Linked DNA regions of Homo sapiens. The protein of the gene in region 1 purifies or fractionates together with the protein of each later gene. This does not show direct contact. Each region holds a gene or a part of one and is shown on either strand. Other genes may lie near its edges.

What was found.
Region 2: the proteins of PCDHGA6 (region 1) and TMEM200A purify together in Homo sapiens (affinity purification with mass spectrometry; one large-scale study listed by BioGRID and IntAct). This does not show direct contact.
Region 3: the proteins of PCDHGA6 (region 1) and CUEDC1 purify together in Homo sapiens (co-immunoprecipitation; one large-scale study listed by IntAct). This does not show direct contact.

The regions. Positions count from the first base shown.
Region 1 is NC_000005.10:141,377,922-141,380,429, reverse strand, and holds part of PCDHGA6 (protocadherin gamma-A6 isoform 1 precursor), read right to left. Parts: exon of another isoform or gene 785-2,508; intron 1-784. UniProt on the Homo sapiens protein: Potential calcium-dependent cell-adhesion protein. May be involved in the establishment and maintenance of specific neuronal connections in the brain.
Region 2 is NC_000006.12:130,368,947-130,372,602, forward strand, and holds part of TMEM200A (transmembrane protein 200A), read left to right. Parts: intron 1-3,656.
Region 3 is NC_000017.11:57,861,334-57,864,989, reverse strand, and holds part of CUEDC1 (CUE domain-containing protein 1), read left to right. Parts: intron 1-1,704; 3' UTR 1,705-3,656.

The DNA.
Region 1 (2,508 bases):
AAGTCTATTTGGCTTCCTGGGCATCGAATTGATTATCTTCTCTCTTTTCTTTTTTGGGACTTTTTTTTCTAAAAAACAAACAACAAAACAGTTCTTTGAAGTTCCATTTAGATTTTCATTCTCAAGCAAAGATATAGGTATCTTCCAATGTTTCTCCTCTGAGATTTTACTCCTTCCCCTTTGACAATTGCCACCTCAACAGAAGCCTGATCAGAAATGAATGCCTTTCAGGCCGGGCTCAGTGGCTCATGCCTGTAATCCCAGCCCTTTGAGAGGCTGAGGCGGGTGGATCACTTAAGGTCAGGAGTTTGAGACCAGCCTGGCCATCATGGTAAAACCCCATCTCTACTAAAAGTATGAAAATTAGCTAGGCATGGTGGCATGCACCTGTAATCCCAGCTACTTGGGAGGCTGAGGCAGGAGAATCGCTTGAACCCAGGAGGAGGAAGTTGCAGTGAGCAGAGATCACACCACTGCATTCCAGCCTGGGAGACAGAGCAAGACTCTGACAAAAAAAAAAAAAAAAAAAAAAAAAAAAAAGAGGCTTTCACAGACCATAAAATAAGAATAAGACAATAATTTGGTAGTTTTTTTTCCTGATGCTTCAAAATTCTATACTGAACTCTCAAAACCTCAGATAGCCTATCTTATTATTAATGATCTGTATTGCAGGTGGATTAAAGAACCTCATTTAGCCATAACTTAGCAAATTCCATGACTGCCAGGATGTTTAACAGTTGGTCAGTCCACATGAGTGAATGACTTTTGTGAGAGTAGAAGTTGGTAGTTTTTCCATCAGAGAAATATTTTATTTGTTTAAATGAAATGGTCACAGGTAATAAGAGAATAAAATAAACCAGCCTGATCTCCATGAAAAGTAGTTAGTGAGCTTTCCCTATAACAACAAATGCTCAAGATGTAGTTTAACATCCCAAATTGGTAGTATAGTAAAATAACATTCACACTTTCAGAGTTTATGAAATAATCATATGTATAACAGCCCATCTAACTCATGAGACTAATATCCAAGATTCAAGTTGTTTAAAATTGTTATTTTATCAAATTATATCACAAAGATACAAGAAAATGAGCTTTGAAGATGTGTATGATTAGATCTCTTGTTTAGGTATATACCTTTGGAAACTTGAAATAAATAAATCTATAACAATTCCTTAAATGTAAATACCACAATATTGGTTCAGAAAAACACATATTACTCTTAGCAGCTTATTTAAAAACACATCAACTCAATGTTATCTTTAAGAAGACTGACAAAGTCAGGTTACAAAGGAGGTTCTCATTTATTTTCAAGGTATCTTCTCAATTGCTTTTTTCTTACACATTCATAACAAATTCAGATGCACAAGTGGCCAATCCATTCTATAATACCACCAGATTGTAGAATCTTCCAACTCATGACTGGAGAAAAATCTTGACTATAATGTAGTTCAACAAGTCATCAAATTAGAGAATCCCCTGTACTCCATTCATTCCAGGGCCATCAACTTACTTTTGAAGACTGTCGATAACAGAATCTCCTATCTCCTTAGTGATCCATTTTCTATTCGAACATCATTGACAGTCAAAAACTCTGCTGTTTTCTGTTCATGAAACAATGATTCTGTTTGCACATTTCAGTCATAATAAATAAGACTAATCAGTCTTCTAAATGATAATCCCTTTTTTCTTGAAATATTTCAATAAAGAGTTCCTATATGATGAAAGCCTTATTGTCTGGGTTAAAATGCTAAAATATTTAAATTTTTATTTGAACCTCATTAACATTTGTTCTCCCATTCACCAGTCAGTCATCTATTTTTAGAGATATGTCCTGTAAGCAGACACTACCGAGCATGTTTTAAAATTCATGTTCACTCTTTATTTATTAATTATCATTATTATTTTTTGAGACAGAGTCTCGCTCTGTCACCCAGACTGGAGTGCAGTGGCACGATCTTGGCTCACTGCAACCTCTGCCTCATGGGTTCAAGCGATTCTCCTGCCTCAGCCTCCCGAGTAGCTGCGATTACAGGCCCATGCCACCCCACCTGGCTAATTTTTGTATTTTTAGTAGAGACGGGGTTTCACCATGTTGGTCAGGCTGGTCTCGAACTCCTGACTTCGTGAGATGCCTGCCTTGGCCTCCCAAAGTGTTGGGATTACAGGCATGAGCCACCGCACCCGGCCATTTTCACTCTTAAATACTATCAGGCACACAGTATGCAAAAGACACTGTAGTAGGCACACAGCATCGGTGCTTAGTTATTGTTAACAACCCAATAATTATAATAATGGTGATGTCAACAAATACGTGTTCACTATGCTGCTTTAGAGTTTGAAAAAAAGTTATAAAATTATTTTCTTAGAATTTGAGTCAGATAGATAAGGAAAGTCTTGTTTTAAAAAATAATATAAGTAGAGCTTATTTGAGCCAAGCTTTAGGATTGCAACCCAGGAACATAGATTCAAGTTGCCCTGGATACACACTCTATAAGCAGCAGTTACAGG
Region 2 (3,656 bases), on another chromosome or scaffold:
TAAAATGCTGCAAGGCAAATTCTGGCAGAATTAAAGAGAGACAGAAGTCAGTGTGTGTGTGTAGGAGGGTGGTTTGTAGGGTTTTGGTTGAAGGAAGCCAGGCTGGAGGGTCTTGCTAGTTGTATTGAATGGGAAATGGCAAAGAGAAGTAAAAGATGTCTGGCCTGGGACATCTGACCTAACATTGATTATGTGAATTGAAAATACATAATAAAATAATAAAAATACCAGCTTTCACTTAGTACTGGGTGGTTTTCCATGAATTTTCACAAATGATGCAATAGATTTTTGTAACAACCCTCGGAAGTAATTAGAGCAGAAAGGTGATGAAGCTGGGACTAATACTGCAAAGCACATCTGCACCAGTATGCGCCACTGCCTTTCTGCAGGATTTGTAGAGATAGGAGAAGCTAAAGCTCACTTTGGAAACCCTGAGTAAACAGGAGAGAGACATAAGGTTAGGGTCAGATTTTAGGTGAGGTTGAATTTCTGCGTAAGAATTTAGGTTACATTCTGGAACACAGAAGTCTCCAATTACGAGCTCAAGACTTCCTGAAATGCCTTGAATTCTGATTATTGATGTTTAATCTTACTGCTCCTGTTCTGTGCCCACTCCTCCTCTAAGGTCCCCCTTTCCCCAGCAGGAATTCTGGGGCTTTGACTATCACAGAGTAATTGATATGACTCTTCCAAGAGCTTTTAGTGATGCTGGAAAAAGGAAATCCATGCATTTCATATAAAGGCGAGGATTCTGGGGCCACTGTATCATTAATTGATAGGATGTGTTCTGCAAGTTGTGCTTTGGAAACTTTGTCACCAGAGGTGAAATTCCACAGAAGGCATAGAAATCTAGAAAGGTGTAAGATGAGTGTCTGTACATTCCTTCCTGTAGAGCCCTAATCACTCTGCTCTGAGCATGAAGTGCACCAAGGGGGGACAAGTCTCTGCTTACCACCCAACTGTGTGTTCACCACCCCACTTTGTGTTCATGTAGAAGGGAGTTACTCAGGATTCATTTGCTTGCATGTGTGAATATTTAACTAGGTAAAGCAAAAAAGGACTTACTGGCTCATTGGACCAGAAAGTCCAAAGGTGGTCCTTGCTTCAATCATGGCTGGAACTCAGAGACTTACACAACTTTGTCGAGGTTCTTTCTCTCTCTCCCCATTTCTCAGTCCCACTTCTCTCTGGGTCAGCTGTATTCTGAGGCACTCTTTCTGGATATGGAGAAAGATGACTGTGGGTATTTCTAAACCTACATTCCTGGGCTTTTCATCTATGAGAAAAAGAGGTCCTTTCTCTTCCAGGTCCCATTTTTATAAATCTCCTTGAAGGGCTCTGATTGGCCCTGCTCAGTGGTAATTGAATTGGTCTCTGTGTCTAGCAGAGAGTGCTACTCTGATTGTATTGGACTAAATCATGTGCCCAACCCTGTGTATATGTGGTTCTGGTGCTGGGATGAGGAGGAGGAGGCTGGTAGGGCACTATGATAGGCAGTTCTGTCAAGATTACATAGAGTTGTGGTTCTCCCAAGAAAATAATGCTGCCAATCAAAAACAATAGTCTATTATTGGGAATAATTCCTTCCTTTTTTGGGACAGCCCTCTGCACAATGATCTGGAGTTTGCACATGGAAGCAACTCAGGTGCCCAAGACAATGCGTATCCCAAAAGTGGGACCTTTCTCCCAAGCAAGGTATAGCCCAGTGATGAAATAATGCCCTCATGTTTAAACTTTATTAAAAGGAGGATTGTTTCCAGAATGGGAAACACCCATTCTGGAATGAATGGGAAGCCACCATTTATTCATATCTATGTACTTCTAGCAAATATCCCTGTGCCTTATTTCCAGCCCAGAGATTTTGTTTCCAAAAGCCCTGCCCATCTAGTGATGATGAGATTGGATACCCCCTACTTTGGCCATTGTAGAGCCAGTGAAAGTTTGAACAGGGAGCTGAAGTGATTAACACAGAACTATTGTTTATGCAAATACATTGGGTTGTTGGAAATGCACAGAGGGGAGTGGCAGGCACAGATTAGGATTTTCATTTAGGAGGCATAAGATGATAGGTTTCCAATTAGAGTAATGGCAGCAAGAATTTGTGAGCAATATTATGAAGTTCTTATGAGGTTATATGTCAGGATGAAGGAGCATCTTTGTTGACAGAAGCATTTGTGGAATGAAATAGGCCAGGAGGGAGTAGACTAGGAAGACATCCTGGGCCAGTAGGTGAAATGGCTATGCGTGGTAGATAGGTTAATAGCAAATAGATTGTGTAGACAGGAGGCCTGTGGTCACCATGAGTCCTAGGGGCATGTATAGAACTGACATTTACCAAGGATCTACTTAGTATGGTAGGTTCATGTTGCATACTTTAAAGTTATTATATTAATGTTTATATAAAGTCAGGGAGGTAAATAACTTACTGAAGGTTATGAGGCCATTAAGCAGTACAGCTGGAATTCAAACCCTGGCAGTCGGACATCAAAGCCTTGCTTTAACCACTATGCAAAACTACCTCTCAACCTCAAAGTCAAATTCACTGTATCAGGCCAAACTGAAGGACCAGCTAAAGGTTGGCCCTTCTGATAGGAAATGAGAGTGCCAGAATTCCAGGTCAAATAGAAGGCACAGAACAGAGGTTATTAGGGTGAAAGTGGATAACATTCATGCTCAGAGCCAACCTGGACAAGAATGTCAAGGTAAGACATTCTTGGAAAGGAAAGAATATCACATGCATCCATTCTGGATTTAGGGTTTGGGGTATAGCAAGGAAAGGGGATGGGAAAATTATCAGGCAGTTGAACAGATGGGCAGATCAATAGAACAACTGGAGTTTGATTGTTGACCTGAGAACAGGAACTCTACCATCTGCCATGGCTTTAAATATCCTTCCTGGTGTAAGTTGATAAGAATATGGAATGGGCAGCTCCTCAGAGGGAGACAGGATTTTATTAGTTGTCAGGCACTATCAGGGAAGGAGCTAACGTTTGTAAGGCCATGCGCCTTAGATACGTAAGCTCACTAAATCTTCATTATAATTCCAGAAGGGTAAATATTATGCCTCCCCACCATCGCCACTTTTCTTGAGCCAGGAAATGGAGGCTCAGAAGGTTAAGTGACTTGCCCGAGCTCCTGGAGCCAGACTGGAAAGTGAAAGAGCTGGCATGGAACCCAGATCTGTTGGAATCCAGACCTCTTCCTGGATCTTCAGGGAGTCATCCTGGTGCTAGCAGGACAAGGTCAATATCAAGTCTGAGAGATGGAAATGGGGAAATCAGGAGGGGCATATGGTTGTGAAGGAAGACAGTAAGCTAACTTTTAGACATCTGAGTGTGAGATAAGAGCAGACCGTCTGAAGAGAATTGTCCAGCAGGATTATATCTGGCTTTGGCAGAAAACTTAATAATCTAGTAGGTTTTTTCCCCTCAGTACAGGATCTCTATCATTATGCAGGGTAGATACGTCAGCAAGTCAGATGTTTGGAAGGCTTAATTTAAGTCACTGATTTCAGTTCAAGAGAAGGGACCTCTGCCAGCTGCCATGGCCTGAATTTACCTTTATACATACAGATACTCTGCCCTGAAATGTGAAAAAATGAGAAGTAGATACATATAGAGAGGGAGAGAGGACACTCGCTAGCACATGCTGAATGT
Region 3 (3,656 bases), on another chromosome or scaffold:
CACCTCTCAGGTTCAAGCGATTCTCCTGCCTCAGCCTCCCGAGTAGCTGGGATTATAGGCACCCACTATCTTGCCTGGCTAATTTGTTTTTGTATTTTTAGTAGAGATGGATTTTTGCCATGTGGCCAGGCTGGTTTCGAACATCTGACCCCAGGTGACCTGCCCGCCTGGACCTCCCAAAGTGCTAGGATTACAGGTGTGAGCCACCGTACCTGCACCTCATCATTTATTTCTGTCCTAGGACTTCCAGCTTGTCCCCTTCCAGCTCCTTCTGCAAGTTGACATCCTCCTCCTCCTCCCCTTAAACACCAAGGGTCCTTGAGTCTTCCCTGCCATCCTCCTTCATCCACTGCAGGCTGACAGCCCCTCCCATCACTCGGATTGACTCGGAGGTCACCCAGCAGCTCAGGGCCTTAGCATCTTCTGCATTCTTATGGTGCTCTTCCACACGCACTCCCCTGATCTCTCCTGAAGCTGCCCTCCCTTGGCTCCTGTGACCCCAGGAAGCCAGGTTCTCCTTCCTCTCTCCTGGCTCCTGTTGCTCCGCCCACTCCCTAAATACTGGCTCTCCTTGTTGCTCTGCCCTTGACCCTCTTCGAAGTCTTCTCACTGCCCACTCTGGCAGTGCCTCCGCCCTCTTTTATAGCACCAGCAACACTTCTGCGCATCTGGCTCCTACATCTGAATCTCCATCGCAGTTAGGCTTCCAGAGCTGCTTCGTGTCCCCAGCTGCACCCAAGATTTTCTTTTCAGCCTTGGATAGCAACTCAGTCTCTCCTCCTGACTGCCCCCTTTCATTCTCTTTTCTATTCCTTCCATTACCACCCTGATAGATGCTCATCACCTAGGTCACAGCCCTGTTCTCTTCACTGCCCCTACCTACTCTGATTATCCCACCACCAAAACACCACTTTAGTTCCATTTTTCCTGTGCTCTTTGAATGAATCTTTTTTTTTCTTTTTCTTTTCTTTCTTTTTTTTTTTTTTTTTGAGATGGAGTCTCGCTCTGTTGCCCAGGCTAGAGTGCAGTGGTGCAATCTCCACTCACTGCAACCTCCCCTTCTCAAGTTCAAGCCATTCTCCTGCCTCAGCCTCCCGAGTAGCTGGGATTACAGGCACGTGCCACCCCGCCCGGCTAATTTTTGTATTTTTAGTAGAGACGGGGTTTCACCATGCTGGTTAGGCTGGTCTTAAACCCCTGACCTCGGCCCGCCTCAGCCTCCCAAAGTGCTGAGATTACAGGCGTGAGCCACTGCGCCTGGCCTGAATGAGTCTTCTGAGTAAAGTCTTAGGAACTCTTCAGCCTGGTGTCTGAGTCCTACCAAGTTCTGCCCCCAGTTTACTTTTCTCCACCTACAGGTCTTTGTGGCCTAGCTCCCCTGAGCTATGACGTATTAGAATGGGCCAGGTACCCTCCCACGTTGAAGCCCTCCCCTACAGCTGCTTCACCCCGGGATTCCATTCCTTCACTCCATCTCCTGCTGCCAGAGTCCCTGCAGCTGGGCAAGCTGGAATGGTTCTAGGAATTTGAATGGGGGGATGACCCAGGCAGAGTTCTACGGTTGACCTCGAGTCCCTGGAAAAAGGAGAGGGCTTACGTCTTTAGTAACTTCTCCCAAAACTGTCTCTCCAGGAACCAGTGACCAGGAAAGACCATTGGGCTCCTTTGAAAAAGATTCCTCCCATCCCTTTTTTCCCCTACCAGATGCCAGCAGCTCTTCCTTGCCAGAGATGATCTGACCCGGTGGGGGCAGCTGGAAAGCAACACTGGCCCCCAGCTGAAGGGCCCAGCTGCAGCCAGACAGATGGTGCTTGAGAACCGAGGCCCGGTGATCCTCCAGCCACAGTCCAGCCCAACCACTGCCACTTTCCATGGGACTTAGAACTTCGGAGTTGCTGCCTTGCAATTGGAGGAAGGACCTGGGGCCCCTATAGGCAGCAGCCAATTACAGCCCCTTTTGTAGCCAGGCGTTCCTATGGTCAAAGAGTGGAAATGCAGGAACCAACCTCCCTTTAAAAAAAAAAAAATCCAGAAAGCAGATAAAAGTTGGAATATGGAAAAGGGCAAGATGACCCCCACCAGAGGCTCTTTGGCCTGAAGGTGGAGTCTCTGCCTCCGTCCGTTCTCTATCTCTCCTGTCACAGACTCTGCCTGACCCCCTTTCCTCAGCTCCCTTCTGGTCCCCCTTCCTCAGCTCCCTCCGGGCACTTGTGCCCTTCCCTTCCATGTCCTCCTGTATCTCAGCCTTCCCCCGGGGCTGCTGGCCCAGCACACGAGCCCTGCACCCAGCCTGGGTGGGAGGTCCCTGGCCAGTCCCCCAGGAACTCTGAGGAGCTATGGGCTACTGCAAAGCATCTGCCGACTGCCCTGCCCCGTCTGGCCTCATCAGGCTGCTGCTGTTAGGGATGGGCTCACTCCCAGCAGCTCCCGGTCACCCAGCAGGGATGGGGAGGGTGGCCACCCTGGAGCTGGAGGACTCTGGGGAGGCAGGGTCTTTAATTTGGCAGCAGACAAAAGCCAGTTCTGGAGTCACACCACAGTAGGGGCTCACAGGGGCTCTGACTCCCCAGCTGGACTGGAAGCCCTGCTGTCCGAGGGTGGGCAGCGGTGGGTCCTGGAGTGACCCCTTTGAGCAGGTGCAGGGCTAAAGAGCAAGGCGGAAAGGCCGCCAGCCTGGGTGAGCGCCTAGGGCATAAGGGCTTGCTGGGTGCCCCTGAGAAGGGCGGGTGATCTGAGGAGGAGAACTCTGATTCTAGGAACGCTTACACGGCACTGACCACTGCCACGGGGAGGGAGGCTGCCCAGCCCGTGGCCCCGCCCTGGACATGGGAGCGCGCAGACCTTCCGGAGAGCCGGGAAGCCTGGGCAGGCACGAGGCTTCGGCGCGGCTCTGGGAGGTTGGGAGTGGCATCCGATCCTTGGCCGGGCCCTGGTGGCCTCCGTGGCCCCAAGATCACAAGGGCGTAGCGAAGGCGAGCCGGCGATCGCACCTCGTCCCGCCCACCCTGCCCGGACTCGCAACGCCGAGCTTGGGGAGGGCCGGGACGCGCAGCCGCCGCCGAGCGTGACCAAGTTTGGAAACGCGCGCGGGGCCGGGACGCTGGCTCGGGGGGCCCTGCCGAGGAGCGGTCGCCCCCTCCGCTGCTCCCCGCGCCAGGCCTGGGGCCCTGGAGGGAGGGGGGGGGGTCTCCGAGGAGTGCCTCGGTACCCCAGCTCGAGTTCTCGACGGGTCTCTGAGCCTTCCCCGCGCCAGGACCCGGCGCACTGTGGGGGAAGCCCCAGCCCCATGTCTGTTGAGTGTTGCTTTGTTATTTTTTTTCCTCCTATGTGTGGGTTTTTTCTTGGAGCTGTTTCATAGGAATTCCTGTAATAAACAGTTGGTGTTCTCTTGGTGCTCTGATGTGGCCAGCGGCGTGGGCTGGACCCTCCTGCTCCCTCCTCCCTCCCGGCCTGGGGCAGGGTTTGTCCCCAGGAGCCCCGCGTCGCATCCCTAGGGTACCCCTGCCTTGCCTGGCCCATTCACCCGCGGCGCTCTCCGACTGCACTCTCGAGGTGACACCTGCGGCACCGCTGCACCTCAACCTTGCGGACCTGCCGGCTGCGTCTAGCGCTGTCGCCTTCCTGTTTGGCCCAGGACTGTAAACCGCTTGCTGTAT